2 separate regions of the Homo sapiens genome follow, and region 2 is linked to region 1. The links come from fine-mapping of genetic effects on gene expression. Tissue or cell type: whole blood. Region 1 holds a variant in brackets; the other region holds the start of a gene. All regions are shown on one strand. Distances are from middle to middle.

Region 1 (8,106 bases):
GAGCCTGGTGGATTGTTTGAGCCCAGGAGGTTGAGGCTGCAGTGGGCCGAGATTGTGCCAAAAAAAAGAAAAAAAAAAGAACAAAAACTGTGAAGATATATTTAGACTACAAGTAAAAACAGATTTGATTATGATCTTTAACTAATGAGATTATAACATGCTCCTTGTCAAAGTGCTATCTTAAAGCTCATGAAGACTTCAGGGCCTGAGAAAACACCTGTCAATATCATTAATAAGAATTCTCAAAGGCTGAGACAGCAAAACCCAACAAGACACCTGTTAGAAAACCACCATTTTTAAAGTCTTACAAAAAAAAAAAAGAAAAGACTTTTTCTTGGAGATGATAAAAGGTATCTTAGGTATCTTTATAGCATGCCCAACTTCTATATCATCAGATCCTTTATTTTTATTTTTATTTTTTTTTGAGATGGAGTCTCACTCTGTTGCCCAGGCTGAAGGGCAGTGGTGCGATCTTGGCTCACTGAAACCTCCGCCTCCCGGGTTCAAGCAATTCTCCTGCCTCAGCCTCCCGAGTAACTGGGATTACAGGCACCCGCCACCATGCCTGGCTAAATTTTGTGTTTTTAGTAGAGACAGGGTTTCACCATGTTGGTCAGGCTGGTCTCAAACTCCTGACCTCAAGTGATCTGCCCACCTTGGCCTCCCAAAGTGCTGGGATTATAGGAGTGAGCCATTGCATCCGGCAGATCCCAATTTTTTGTTAATTCTCTAAGGATAAGGGGGAAATCACCTCCAAAAGATATAGTGGAGAAGCAGAAGGAGAGAAGGAAGATGGTTCTTTGGACACTTGTGTCTTTAGACATCATAATAGATAAGAATGAAGAATGCCATTTTGAAATGTATTCTCCTTACTGAAATCCCAAGAGAAGAGAAGACTGCACTAACTTTAGCCTCTTATTGATCAGCTAAACATAAATGGGGATTAAAATATCTTAAAAAACAAATGCCAGATTTCCTCTCATTAGTAGTTTAGTAGGTTCCGAGTCTTGTTCCAGAGTCTCTGTGGGTCCCTTCCACGTGTGGGCTGGTTTCGGGGCCCCAGGGATGGTGGCAGTCCTAGCCATGAGAAGAACTGTGTCACTGGGGTGGACTCTGCTCACGTGGTCAAGAGTGCATGCAGGCCACTTCCTCCACATGGGAAAGCACCTGGCAGGCATGGATGAGAGCGACCAGGGGAGTTCCCAAGAGGCCAGCTGGGCAGTGCTGCTGGGTGGGGAGTGGGTGAGGGCAGGTGGCGGGAGCCTGAGTGTGACCCCAGGAGGCCCAGAATCTAGTAGTTGCTGTTTTCTTCCTCTGGAAACAGGTTTTTTTTTTTTTTTCCTCTGGCACCCTGCACCAGTGTCGGCTTACCTGCTTGTTGGCCGGCATGGTCTGGTGAGAGGGGTCGGCGGTGCTGGGGAGACTGCTCACCATTTTGGGGTTTGCCGCTTTGCCTTCAGAGGGCTTATTGTGAGTGGATGATTTTCGGGAAAAGTTACTCTGTTTCCCAGAGGTTGCTGCGTGCGCATTCAGCAGAGGCAGCAGGGAGCTGCAGGGAGTTCTTGAGGAATAGTTGTTCTTTGGATGTGTAACTGCAATAATAAAGTGCTCAGTGTTACGAGCTGCACCTCCAACACTGCTGCCTCAGTAACCCATTAGGAAGCGCTAGAAGATGAAGAAACTGGCCAGGAGCTCCACAAAAACATTAAAAAGTTTTCTTTTGAAAGATGTTATTTGAAAGGGCATCTTGGTGCTTAAGAGAACAACCAAATTTCTTTTGTGGGAATCACTGAACTGTGATTACAGCATAATCATCCAAGTTGGGAGACATTTGTAGGAAATAAGACATATCTGACCAACTTAAATATTATTCTTTAGGTCAAGAACCACCAAGGGAAAAGAGATAATGAAACCTCAAGGTTCCCTCTCTGGCCCTGTCTGCAAATGTACTCTGCCTCGTAGAGTCCCCATTACCAAACCTGTTCTCACTTCCCTGATCAGTTCCCTGGACCAACTGGTACTGCAGACACAGAAAGATTGGGAGCTATGCGGACACTCTGGCCTGTCAGATCCACGATGTTCTGAGAGCTTGGGAATGGGGTGATGTTGGATGTTAGGAATTCTGTTACTCTGGGTCATGCATATCCCCCAAACACAGGGCCAGGCCCGCCAGCCCCTAAGGCATCTTGTATATTTCATTAGTGCTCCATCATCACACCTTTAATCAGCCCCGTTTTCTGCAGCCTCACTGCAGATGTGCACCACTTCCAAGGTTACAGGCAAGGCAGGCTGATCAGGCGGACACCCGTCAGAGCTCAGGGCTCAGGGCTCAGGGCTCAGGCAGGTCTGCTCAGCGTTTATTATGACCATTCCCCCTGGTTTTGAAAGTGGTGGTTTCTGCTGGGATGATTTCTATGTGATTACACTGAATCAGAACTGGAGGGAATCAATTCAAGGATAAAGCCCTGACTTCCCTCTCACAGTTCACCAGAATCTGACTGCCAGCTAGACCTTTCTTTGAGGCTTAAAACTGTCACCAATTTTTGAAAGCAACTTTGTCTGCTCTCTTTGTTGGATCAGATTTAATCCCAGGGTTCTGCTAGAGGACTAGGCGGGACCAGTAAGAATCACAATACAGGAGAAATGGAAAGGCCAGGGACACATCCCCAGTCCCTTCAGTGTACTGGGAAGGTGTGACAGCAAGCTGGGGCTGTCCAAATGTGACCAGGGGATTTCCGTGGCTCCTATGCTCACCAGATTCAGTTTCATGGGGTCATTATTGTCTGCAGATCAGGGACCACTATTTCCGGTTCAGTACCTGTGGGTTCTCAATGTGCTCTCAACAAAGCTGAGAAGGAAGGGCCTTTGGATGATTACGGTGTCTGTCTTTCAGAATGGACACCTGGAATTTAGTAAGGGACCATTTCTCCCACTAGATGGCACTTGAAGTGCTCAGGAGGAAAGGAGGTGAAGGGGCACCTCTCCATCGCCCCGAGATCGGTGGTGACAGGGCATCGCTCAGCATCACTGTCTTGCTCATTGAGGGCTGAAGTGGAAAAGAGGGTGGGCAGTTCCCTTTTTTAGAGGTGGGGCAAAAGCTGGGGATAGAGAATGGCAAATAGGTAGATTCTTTCATAAGGAAGAGTACAGGGGGGAACAATAATTTTTAAAAATGCAGTCAGAAAATCAAATAATTGGCAAGGATGTGTGGACAAGGATGCTCGCAGCAGTGTTAATTAATTAATTAATTAATTTTTTGAGATGGAGTCTCGCTCTGTCGCCCAGGCTGGAGTGCAGTGGTGCGATCTCCACTGACTGCAATCTCTGCCTCCCGGGTCCAGGTTCAAGTGATTCTCCTGCCTCAGCCTCCCAAGTAGCTGGGCTTACAGGCACCTGCCACCACGCCCAGCTAATTTTTG[C/T]ACTTTTAGTAGAGATGGGGGTTTTACCATATTGGCTAGGCTGGCCTCGAACTCCTGGCCTCAGGTGATCAGAGTGTTATTTTAATGGTGAAAAACTGCAAGCAATCTAAATGCAGCAACCAGAAGACCGGTGACATCTATTATATTTAGAGAAATGACTGGTTAAATATATTGATATGAAAAAATGTCTACCATAGATTGTGAAGTGATAAAAGCAAATTGTGTTACTATATATGTATGCAGTGTAGTACAGTATAGTTAATTCTATCATAATAGGAAGTGCAGCCAAATCTTAATTTTTCAGCTGACTGCGAGGCTGTGGGTTTCCACGTCATTGACTAGTCCTTTCCTCCTTGTGGCCGTCCTTAAAGCCGCTTCAGTGCTCATTCCCACCTCCCCTTGTGGGTGGGCTGGTGTAGGGGGAAAATATAGCAGCCAATTTTGTTGCACATTAGCTGCTCTAATTAAGGCTTAATAGGGAACAAGACTAAAGCTAATGGCTGAGTGAAGTCTTTCATTATCTGCAGCCTCACTCAGCACAGAGAACCGAGGGTGGAGGCTCAGGGCACTGCTGAGGGGCTCGCATAACAGCTGGGCCCTGCACAACAATAACTGATTGTTCCCAGACATGTTAGGAAGACTCACTCTCTCTGCCTAACGAGTTTCTGTAGAACCAGGGCTGTTTGAAATCAGAGAAGCAGTTTAACTGGCAGTGCTTAATAAAAGTTTGCAAAAGGTATCAACTAGTTGACCTGTTCTGTTCCACTTAATAAATCCTGGGGAATTACTGATGGGCAGTGGCATTTGAAGACTCTAGGTTCAAATCTCGACATTTCTGGTGACTTGTGTCATGAGCTTAGATCATTAAATCTCTTTAGACCTCACGTTAGCCCCCTGGGGGGACTGCACACCTGACATTTCCAATAGCAACTCCAAATAGCACCAAGGTTACTCACACAGAATTATTCAGCAAATATGCAAAACTCACTTTCTCCGCAGAGCATGATTTGGGCCTTCAGCTGTTCGATGTCACAGGAAAACCGGGCAGCTTTCCCGAGCTCCTCGTCATATTTACGCTCGCTGACAAAGTGCTGGAGGAAAGAGATGAAAAGCAGGAACCCCATGATTACAGAAATGACCAAGGCACCCCCGTGGATGCGTTCACTCTGCTCTTCCGGTGTCCACTGCAGTGCTGACCTGGTGGGGATCTTTCCAGCCCTGTTGCTGGGAGGCTCCACGCTCAGTCTTAGTGCTGACCTGGCTAGGGAATGAGCATCTTCCTGCCTGGGGAATATGTGAGGGGCCTGTGTTTCTCTTGTTTGGGCCTACATGAAATGTGTGTCTGACTCATCTATTTAACCTTTTAGCACCCCTCGCCCTCCTAGTACTTTTCTGAATTGCATTCTGGCAGGGTCTTCTGAGTTTGGCCAAGTGCCTTCTAAGGTATTAACCATCAAGAGAAAACATGTCGTCCTTCCTAGACCCCCATTCCTATTTTAACAGGGAACCGGGACGTCCACAAAGCCTTTAGTGTCTGGAAAATATTATTTTAAATGGCAGAATTTCAAGTGCTGTGAAAAGAAGTGAGAAAGAGATTATTTTTCCATTCATTTAAAATTAAGATCTGTGTGTAGAAGACATGGTGAGAAATACAGAAATAACTGCGACTCAGTCCCTTCTTGAGTTTACCAGGGAGTTTAGCAATGGCAAGGAAAACAGATACCATTAACTACAATACAAGGTGGAATGTGGTTGGTGCTTTAGGAATATAAAAGAGGAAGAAATTATTTCCTACTGAGGGCAATGGGGAAAGAGTTATTTAAGAGGGAACATTGAAAAAATCATTGAACACTTACGAGGCACTGGTCAAATTCTTAGCAGATAATCTCATTTCATCTGATCACAGTATTATGAAGTCAGTATTATTACCTCTGTTTTACAGATGGGGGAATTGGGGTTCTACGAGTCTAAGAGAATGTGTAACTTATCCAAGGTCACAGAAGTAGAAAATTTTGCAGCTGGACTGTTTCACTCCAAAGCCTGTGCTACTAACTATTTTATGATGGGTGGCGTTTTGATAGGCAGAAATGAAACTCGGAAGATGAGGTGATTTCAATAGATCAGGAAGCTAGCAATTTTATATTTCTTACTTGATGTTCTAACAAGCTGGGATTTTTGTAGAGAGAGATGGAAGTTGGAACATATATTGAAGTCCAGCTGTGAATTTCTTTCTGAGGGGAAGGAGATATACTGGGGAAACCAGATCTGCTTTGGGAGTTTACGTCTGGTCTTAGTGGAGTACGAGGCTGAAGGGAGACAGTGTAGGCAGAGAGACTAGTGTGGAGGCCACTGCAATTGGCTGGGTGGGAGGCCACAAAGGCCAGAGCAGAGAAGCTGAGGAGGGAAAGGCCACTGACGCCCTCAGCACCCTCAGGTGAGGTCCTCTTCCCCATGGGGCCCGCTTTCATGCCCAACCAGGAGGGAGGGAGTTGAAAAGTCACTTGCCACTGTCAATCATTGCCAAGCAGTTTTATGCCCCAATTTGCAATCTTACTTTCAAAGCTAGCAGCAGCTGTGTCTTGCAACCACTCTAGTTTCCTGGAAGTGGGTAAGAAGCTGGAAGGCGTGTGTGTGTGTGTGTGTGTGTGTGTGTGTGTAGTATACTGGGTGAAAAAGTGGATAAGGGGAATTTTAAAATTTCTTCCTATTTTGTTGTAAATACTTATACTTGCCTTCCTGGTAACTATTTCCCCTTCTGGTAACTGTACCCTGATGCAGTTTCAAAGATCCACAGTCTTGGTGGGTCTGGCGATCAAGATGTCACACCCTCTCTGGGCCAAATGATGGACGTGACCCAAGTGGAGGCCAATCAGAGCCTCTCTCTTAGGGATCCGAGCCAAGTGGGGTGGTACAGGGCTGATGGTCCCATGAGAGTGTCTAGTGATTATTGCTTCTTATTTCACCAGAGCCACCCCAGTTCCTACCTAATTGTTGAGCTGAGCCTTCAGACAGGGCTCTGCTTTGCTGAGCTATACTCACATCCTGTCAAATTCTACTTGTCCTTGAGGTTAGCCAGGGTCAGTTTCTGTTGCTTGTCAATGAAGGAATCTAATAAATACGTATTTATGGGTAGTATTCTTAATAAAAATGCAACTAAACTAGAAAATAATACAGGAAAGAAATCTCCACAGACCGCATGCTTTCTAATCTTCACCATTACACTACGTTCATGCTTCGTGTGTGTATATATACCTGTGGATGTGTTTATATGCATACATACAAATCACAGTGTGTGAAAATAATATCCCCCATCCCAGCTATAATTCATGGCCTGGCCAAGTTACTTTATTTGGTTCAGTCTCTACTGACTGACAAAATAGCTTGTACCTCTCCTTTGGAGTAACACATTCCTTCAAAGCACATTACACTTAAACACAGTGATTATGTGGGTCTTCCCCCTTCTGTGTTCTCTATTTCCACCCTGTGGAAGAGAGCTGGGTGTACATGTTAGATCCTCAGAGAGCAGAACTCTGTGGATGCAAAACAAACATAATTGGGATCAGCTCTCTGGCTCAGGGTTCAGGCTGTGATATTTTAGAACTGACCTTAATTTCTGCCCTGAGTTCGGCCAGCTGCATCTCTGCCATCTGACTGGCAAGGTCAGTGAGTCTCTTTAGTTCTTCTGCTTTCTTCTGACGAGCAGTCAGGATTTCCACTGCCAAATAAGGAGGAGTCATACATTAGGGCCAGAGATTGAAACATATTAAATAACCTAATTTCTTGGAATCAGTTCTCACTCCACAGACTGATTGCTTTGTTGGACCACGACTGTGTTTTCTGAGTTGGTCATGGAGGCGGGTTCACCCTCTGTGCCTATTACCAACAACCCAGTTCCTCCTGTCCTCCTCCACCAATCCCCAAGCCAAACACAGTCCCTTCTGATTCACTGTACACTCCCACTCTACATTTTCTCCACTGGTGTCTGACCTCACTTACGGAATTTAGACTTTTGAAATTTGTTACTCCGAACAACGATCTCTGAAAAACAACACTTATTAAAATCCTCTCTGAGTGATACCGCCAAGACAGGAAGTCTACTAAGCAGAAATCATTCTATATGTGCTGCACTATTCAACTTTAACAGCAGCAGCCCTCTTGAACTTTAACACATACTCACTTAGGGTGACTAGCTGTGTTACTGGAATCTGACATAAAAATCTAACTTTATTAGTTTTTTTGTGAGCCAAAAATGTCTCTGCTTTTGATACTCTGCAGATATGTTTCCATTCAGCAAAAAAACAGAAGTTCTACCCCAGAGTGTCTTAGGTCTTTCTATAAGTGTCCCCAGTGGAAAAATTTCAAGAGTGAGTGAGGCCAGCTAGAACTAGATTCGTGTGAATTTTTTAGCACCTGCACACGTAGAGAAGACACTGGGGAGTACTCTGGCTCCAACATTTTCACACATCTTCAGATGAACTAAAGGTTCAAATAGATGTAGTAGCCTATCAGTTGGTTTGTGTCTGTGTGTGTATACACGTGTTTCCCAAAAGATTATGGCGCTCAGTAGCAATCAATACAGACACACAGGATGAGATTTAAATATGCAGCTGGATCTTTCAATAGATAGACTTCTGGCTCTCTAATTCGACTCATATGAATTGCCTTCATTTCTTTAGGACAAGCATTT
Region 2 (8,106 bases), 160 kb after region 1:
CTGAAGGAATAAGCTTCTGCAGAAATTCAACATATGGCCTATTTACATAACAAGCATCACAACTCCAAATTAGCCATTTTGATGTGTCAAAGACATAACACCTTCATAGCAAGACTACTTCAAAAAAGGGAAGAAAAAAGAAAGGTTTGTTTTTCTTCTATAATTATGTTTACTGGGTTTTTAACTGTTTGTAACATGAAAATCTTATTTTAATTGTGTGATTACACTTTAAGGCAAAACAGTGATGAAATGGATTAGTTGAATGTTGCACAACATTCAGAGATCAATAAACAGACCCAATCACTTAAATCTGTCCATATGAGACACCTACTCTCATGTCCTGTGTCATGCTTGTAAAATCTACTCTTCTGTGCACAGAAATTATAAAAAACATATGATTTAATTATCACAGTCAAATGACAGTAAAAGTGCTACAGAAGATGGCTAGGAAAGAAGTACTATGAAGCAGTGACTAAGCAGTACCTGTCAAGTGCACATAAAATGCATTCCACTCTTGTCATACAGTGGGACAGGTAGTAGCAGCTTAGATCTTACGAAGAGCAACCACAACTTTTTCCATCCTATCCAAACTGTAACCAGAAGTTCTTGTCCTGGCTCACCTCAGAAAATGCTGATTAAAACTGTGTAAAGTAATAGAATGAAGACCACCTATGCCCTTTCAACACACAACCATTCACGAACATTCACTGTGATTGATAACACAACTCTGATCGCAGACTGAGAAACTCACAAAAATTAGGCCCCAAAGTGAGATATTTCTAAAGCTTAACTTCTGATGTAAAAGCTTACCACTTACATGGCAAAACGGGTCCATAAAATGCTTCAGACTGGCATGCAATCAAAGACTGCAACGGTGTGGCCTAAGTATTTTCTTTCCCTGATCCTTACTGGTGTGGCAGAGCAGCTTCTCAAGCCCACAGATAACTCTCTCCACAATGGCCTCAGGAAAATCAGTGCATGCAGAAAAACTATTTACTGAAGACTTTCATTAGGGGGCTCCCTAAAACAAAATGAATACAAAAGGAGTCTTGATCATTTTGCCTGTCTAAATGAGCACATTAAACTAAGTTGATTCTTAGAAAATCATTTAATATTTTCAGGGATTAAAGAAAGAAAATTGCCAATTAATACAGTCTTTTCCCAGATGTTCAGTTTTTACTAACGTCTTTAGCTATTCTCTGCATTCAAGTGATTGTATTTTTATGCAAATTATCTTTTGGGGCTAGTCTCTAGTTTGTGTGTCTGTGTGTGTGTGTGTGTGTATTTAAAGCCACACAGATACAGAATTTGACATGTTTTCTGCCACACAGATACAGATTTGACATGTTTTCTGTTCTGCTGCTCCATACAATAGGTTTTAACACAGCTTGAGCTTATTCCAAAACTCTAATTAGAAACTGCAGTATTTGCCTTGTCCAAATAGAAACCCATTCCCAAAGTTGATTTTTCCCCAGTTAAAATTCAACAAAGAATATCATACACAGATATTTTTAAACACGACAGTTACTAGATAAAACTGCCCTATCTAACAACACATTGCTTTCTGGTTAAGCAACACAATTTCATAAGGCCTATCAAATACTTTATCCAGACGGCCACTCTATTTTCAGGGTATTGGTTGTATTATTTGAAGTCTTTTTTTTTTTTCAGAGTGAAGAGATTTCTGACTTCCTGTCCTCTTCCCTGCTATATTACATACATCTGCTTAAACTCTGGAAAACAGTACCAGTCAAAGTGGTGCTGAAACCTTCCTTTAAGACAAACTAAAACGATGTTAAAAAGGTTACACGACCTTACTATTTCAAGTACTGGTATAAAACCACTTTCTCTGCACAGGTTCTAAAATTTCACAGTCGTTTGTCTTAAAGTCTGTCGGCTTGTGAGGGGGCTGGTACATATTTTAATATTTAAATTTCAAAAAATAAGCAATGAGACTGTGTTTGAAGTTCAAGGGTTTTCACTAGTTCTCAAGCTACAAACCCTGTAATATAGCCAAAAGAAAACGTACAGAAAGAATCTTTCACGAAAAGTGTCAGGTCTCCAAAACCCCGACATCTGCTAAAACCAGGATTGCGGGGGGGATGAGAAGCTCGTGAAGTTCAAAAACACACCAACCCCGCGGGAACACGAAACCTCCACTCGCGAAGACGCGACGCTTCCGCCGCATCCCCGCGCAGGTGAAGACTCGGCCCTTCAGCCCCGCGTGTGCGGCAGCATGATATTCAGAGTGCGCCGGCGTCCAGCGCGAGCGCATCCTACGACAACCCCGTCTCCCGCTGGGGTCCGCAGCCCGCGGACTCCGGGGTCCCCCCGCCCAAATGCGGCGGCGCGACCGCTTCGTCCCGCGGCCAGGGCGCTCCGCGTCTGCTCCGGCCACCCCAGCCCACCCGCGCAGCGCGGACGCCAACGCATCCCACTCCCGCTGGGCGCCAGGGGCGCGGGGTTCAGTGGGGCCGCGGCCCCCGCACCCGGCTGGGATCCGAGGGCGGGGTGGTCGCGGCTGACGTGGGCTTTGCGGCTCCGGGCCAGAGAGCAGCCTGGGGGACGGTGGGTCTCTTTCCGGCTTGGGAGGGAACGGGGGCGCCCGCGCGGGAGGACGGCAGGCGAGGGACGGCGGCCGCGGGCGATTCAGATCCGGGGCGGGCGGGTACACGTCGGAGCGCGGCGGCCACACGCTCGCCCGGGGAGCGCCACTGTGCGTCCCAGCCGGCGCCTCCTCCCGCTTGCCCGCGCCGGCTGGAGAAAGGAAGGACGGCGACCTTCGCGTCCGGTCCGCGCCACCAGCCCGCCTCGGCGCCGAGCGCGGGCCACACCCAGCGCTCCGGGAGGCGGCGGAGGCTGGGCGGCCCGGGCTGCGGAATGCTCGGCCCAGCCGAGTCTCCGTCCCGGCCGCGCAGGCCCCTCCGCGTCCGCCCGCGCCCTGCATCCCCAGCCGGCCCGGCGTGGAGGGGGTCCTGGGCTTACCTCTGTGTCGAGCGCCGGCTCCTCCGTCCCGGGCCGGAGCCGGGGCCCGGGGGCGCGGTCGCCAGGGGAGGCGCCGCGGCGGTGGCGGCCCCTGCGGCTCGGAGGGCGGGCCGAGCGGGAGCCGCTGCCTGGGCCGCGCGCCGTCCGGAGCTCGCCCCGCGCTGCCGGCGCTTGCAGCGGAGGGCGCAGCCAGCTCGGCCCCCGGACTGGATTCCTTCACTGACACAACTCCGGCTCGGCCGCCCCACGCAGGGACACTCCCGCCCCTCGCAGGCTGCCCCCGCCCGCCGACCCGCCCGCCTTCCCCTCGGTGTCACTCACCAGGAGCACACACCCCAGCCGGCGCCCCTCGCTCCCGCTCGCAAACACAGCGCTGCTCACGCCTCTCTCGGGTTTTGTATCCGCTCACACGCACGTTCTGACACAGATCTCGTCCCTCCACACGCCCTCCCTAGCTCCTTTCCCACCCCACTTTCTAGAAGAATCCCAGTACAGCTTCCGCACTTTGCTTGCTTGCTCCAGACCGACTTCCTCGCCTTTCCCCAAACCTCCACTTCACCGAAACTCCCCTTGTTAATGAAAGATTTTGTCACAATCCGCACGTGTTGCAAGAGAATCATCTTCTCCTACCCGAGAAAATGAACTTTGCTCCCTCAGCACTGTCTGCAAATACGAGATGTTTTTCCTTTTAGAAGGTAGTAATGCTTTCTGGAGAGGATCCAAGCTCAAAATGTAAGCAAAGATAGCCCATTCGAAAATGACCTGAAAAATCAGGCGCGGAAAAAGTGCTGGAGCTCGGGTCAGCCCTTGGAAACCCGACCAACCCGGGGTGTTCCGCCGCCTCCTCTGCGCTGCGGGTCTGCACACTGGGCTCCAAACGTGTGTGTAATAACCAAGTTACACATGGGCATCGTGGGCTTCAGCCGTGGGTTTCTGCCTGGGAGTACAGTAGTCGGGAGAGTAAAAGCAGTTTCTCAATCATTATTCATGATGGAAGCACTTTAGATAACACTCTTCTTCCAGAGGCAGTAGAGTGAAATGCAGGCAGCTCTCCAATTCAGGTTTTTATTTATTTATTTATTTATTTATTTATTTAGAAGGGTGACTTCTTAGCTTCCTTTTTTTTTTTTTTTTTTGGCAATACCAATAACTGTTTCTGAGTGGCTCCTTGGCTGTCAAGCTCCTTACAAATATCAGACCAGAGTTTGTTATGCTTCTCGAGCTCCAGACTCTAATGGGCCTCCGAGGGCACTGCAGAATCGTACATAATCCGATGTTCAGGAATTCATAATTTGAAATAAAATACAAACACCTTTCGGATAAAGTTCAAATCTGCTAACATAATGTGGCCCTGTTGACAACGCACTGCTGAAATAAAGAGAGGAGCTAAAACGAAAGGAATTCATTTTCTTATGTGACTTGGAGTGGTTCTTGCTACCTTATAGTCGCCTTGGATTGGTGTGTGGATAATATAATTTATTTAACAGACATTAGCAAGTGCTTTATAAGTACTAGCTCATTTAATCCTTGGAAGAACCCCATCAGGTAGGTACTACTTTTGTCCTGTTTTACAGATAAACTGAGGGCTGGGCCCAGTGGCTCACACCTGTAATCCCAACACTTTCGGAGACCGAGGTGGGCAAATCTCTTGAGCCCTGGAGATCAAGACCAGCCTGGGCAACATAGTGAAACTCCATCCCTCCAAAACAAAAAAACTAATAATAATAATTGGCCGGGCATGGTGGTGCACGCCTGTAGTCCCAGCTACTCAGGAGGCTGAGGTGGGAGGATTACCTGAACCAGGTAGGCTAAGGTTGCAGTGAGCCAGGATCACACCCCTGCGCTCTAGTGTGGGCAACAGAGCCAGAGCCTTTAAAAGAAAAGAAAGAAAGAAACTGAGGCACAGAGAGGTGAAATAAGTTGCCTAAGTTTTTAGCTAGTAAGTGGTAAAGGAAGAATTTGAACCTAGACCGTTGGACCCTGCCTGTGCTACAGAGAGGAAAGCTTGCTTCTAGAAGCCATACCACACATAAAGAACAAACATCCTATTGCTTATTAAATTTAGGTGTAATAAGTAACTTGTAGCCATTTGACTTGAAATTTGATGCACTTCTTAGGTCCTCTGGCTAAATAATTTATTTATGTTTTTGGGAGGTTTCCTCCATAATTAGAATTCCAAAATGAATAATAAACAACACTTTTCCTAGGAAGGGCTTTGGAAATAACATTGAACTCAGTCTTCATTCTTTTCTTCCACCACTTCATAATCTTCCCATGACTCCAAATCTAACTTGCTTAGTGAAGTCCGACAGAAAAAAATGCCTTCAAGAACAGAATATGACCAGAGGGAAGAAAGGGTTTTAAGAAGACCATATACCGCCTTTCTAATCGAAGGCTGCTTCTTTTAGTAAGTACTGTAGGTAGGAGCTATAAGAATAAATGCTGTATGTGTTGAGAGCAAAGATGTTAAAGCAGTGAATCAATGAAAAAATAGAGACTAGGCAGGTAGGAGTAGCCACTGTACCACAGACTAGGCTAAAACTAATTCTCTACTGTGAGTGGAGGCCTAGCGCGTGAAAAGACAAGTATAGAATAACTTCGAAGAAAACAATTGTATATTTCAAGAGTTAGCTAAGGGGCCCAGCACCCCCCCAAAAAAATCAGAGTTTTAAAAGTTTTAGAGACAGTGAATTTCAAATCAAACTTGAACCTTTTGCTGTTCAAATTAATTTCTTCTGGAAATAATGAAAACTTCTGTTTCTGTTAGAGAGGATTTAATATGCTTATTGAAACATGTAAAAGCTTCTTGCACATCATATAACTAACAAAGCATTATTTTTCTGAATTAGGCATAAATGATTTTTAAAATATGCATTATATTCCTATTATTATAGGGAGATAGAAAAGTCTGAAGAAACAAAATATGAATAAGATATATGTTGATGTTTTCACCAGATGGTCAAAGTTTATTTGAAAAATTACATTGTTTGAAATCTTGATCTGTGTAATGCTAGTTTGACAGTATTGTTCAAAATGATTCTCTGTGATTACAATTCAGAGATTGAATTGCATTTTACTATTTTCTAAACTAAATAGAAATGTGAAGATCTTTTCTTAAGCAAACAAAACAAGAACCATAAGAGCAGATGTTTTCTGAGGGATGAACAAAGTATGTTCGTTTATATTTTTTAACATTTACGTGTAGGTATTTTTAATCTGTGCGTACTGCTTTCCTCCACATTGTCACCTACACTCTTTATTCAGGGTGCTTAATTGTAAGCCTGGAGAAACAATGCCATGTCCTTCAATAAAGATGACTCTTTTCTTGCAGTATTGATTTTTGCAAAATGCCGTATTTCCCGCTTGCCACCCCTAGATTGTACCAGGCTCCTGATTCTCTAGGCATGATCGTTCAGAGCAGGGCTCACATTTGTGGATATAGCTCAGATTCTGGAAACCTGTTTCAGGCCATGATCAGTTGTGACTCTGTTAGGATTTTGATATCTGAATAAGTAGTGGGGACAGAGAGGAATTTTAGTTGCTAGACTCCAGATCACTAGGCAATATTCAAACTTATTGGGGAGGGCATCTACCATCTAGGATCTTGGACTTTGTGTGCAGTGAATGAATGGAATCTGGGTTATCTCCCATAGGAAGGGGATGAATATGTGTTCTGTGTTTGTTAATGTGCAATCCAGTAGGGCTGTTCACAAATATTCCAGCTCTGCTGCCTTTGAAGCACATGATAAGATTGTACTTCCCCACCTGACTAAAGTATAGTATAGCCCTGCGAGTTGCTTCAGCCAATGAAAGGTGGCCGGAAGTGATGAGTATAACTTTGAGTCAGAAGTTAAGAGTTGGGACATCAGTCACCGCATTCTTTTCTTCCTAGTGCTGCAACATCAAGGTGCGTGGTGGTGACTGCTTCATCAGACTGGAGTGAATGACAACAATGAGCAATGCCATCCCTGCTGAGCATTAGTGGACATGTAGTATGATCAAGAAATAAGCCTTTTTTGTTCTAAGCAACTGAGATTTGATGGTTGGTTGTTTCTGCACCGTAATCTAGCCTATTCTGTTTAAAAATAGGAAGGAAGAAAGAAACAGATAATTGCAGGGAACACCTTGGCAGAATATGGCTAATTATTCCCTTTCCTCCTCAGTGCACAATAAATTCACATTTCCTAGCCTCCCAAATTGTTAGGTGAAGCCAGGGACTGAATTCTGGCCAATGGAATGTAGGCGAAAGTGTTGTACTCCCCTTCCAGGCCTCATCCGTGGAAAGCCTCCCACATGATCTCTCTTCCCCATCTGCCATGTGGAAACTAAGGACCCTGAGACTTCAAAGCAGAAGTCAGGAAACTTTTTCTATAAAGGGCCAAATAGTAAATATTTTAGGCTTTGTGGATCATATAGTCTCTATCAAAACTGCTCAACTCTGCTGTTTTATGGAAAGCAGCCATAGGCACTATGTAAACAAATAAGTATGGCTATGTTCCAATAATACTTTATTTACAAAAACAGGCAGTGGGCTGCATGTGGCCTATGGGTTGTAATTTGCTGACCCCTTATCAAGAGGAGGGTAGAGCTAGGATGGAAGGAGCCTGGGTCTCTGAGTCACCCTGTCACTATTTCTTATAGACACTCACAAACACCTGATATTAAAACATTTAATATAAACATTTAATATACCTGTGTCTGCTTGTTGAACACCCACAGTTGTTATCTGAACACCCACAATTGTTATCTGAGTAAAAAAAAAATCCTTCTGTTGAATGAAGCATGACTAATACACTGTCTTAGCTCATATTCCAGAAAAAATTCCAGATGGATTAATAATCTAAACATAAAAAACTATAAAAGACTAAAAGAAAATATAGGAGACTTTTACAATATTTATAATATTTATAATCGAAGGCTGCTTCTTAGTAAGTACTGTAGGTAGGAGCTATAAGGGCTCCTTATAAGAGCTTTATAATACTAATTAGAAATATCATGAAAAAATTTCACAAGCTATAACAGAAAAAAATTAAACAGAGAAGACTATAAAAATTTAACATTTCTATCAAGTGAAGGGTACCATAAACAATGTTACCTAAGGGGAGAAAATACATGCAACAT

The links. PIP is the estimated chance that this variant, and not a neighbour inherited with it, causes the effect.
Region 2: it holds the start of SPATS2L, and the variant in region 1 is fine-mapped to the expression of SPATS2L in whole blood (TOPMed, PIP 0.95).

What each region holds. Positions count from the first base shown.
Region 1 is chr2:200,466,318-200,474,423 of GRCh38, reverse strand. SPATS2L (spermatogenesis associated serine rich 2 like) reads right to left here. Exons shown (of 13, transcript NM_001100423.2): 10 at 7,025-7,134; 11 at 4,408-4,510; 12 at 1,372-1,592. All of the region lies in intron 2 of LOC101927741 (a long non-coding RNA gene), which reads left to right. Among named protein-coding and RNA genes, the nearest start is that of KCTD18, 40 kb to the left of the region's middle. RefSeq lists enhancers at 1,177-1,326, 2,642-2,821. The variant C/T (reference allele first, on the strand shown) is at 3,420.
Region 2 is chr2:200,301,802-200,309,907 of GRCh38, reverse strand. It overlaps SPATS2L (spermatogenesis associated serine rich 2 like), which reads right to left and starts at 3,215. Exons shown (of 13, transcript NM_001100423.2): 1 at 2,986-3,215. RefSeq lists silencers at 2,251-2,580, 2,601-3,330 and enhancers at 3,741-3,840, 6,712-6,761, 6,304-7,503.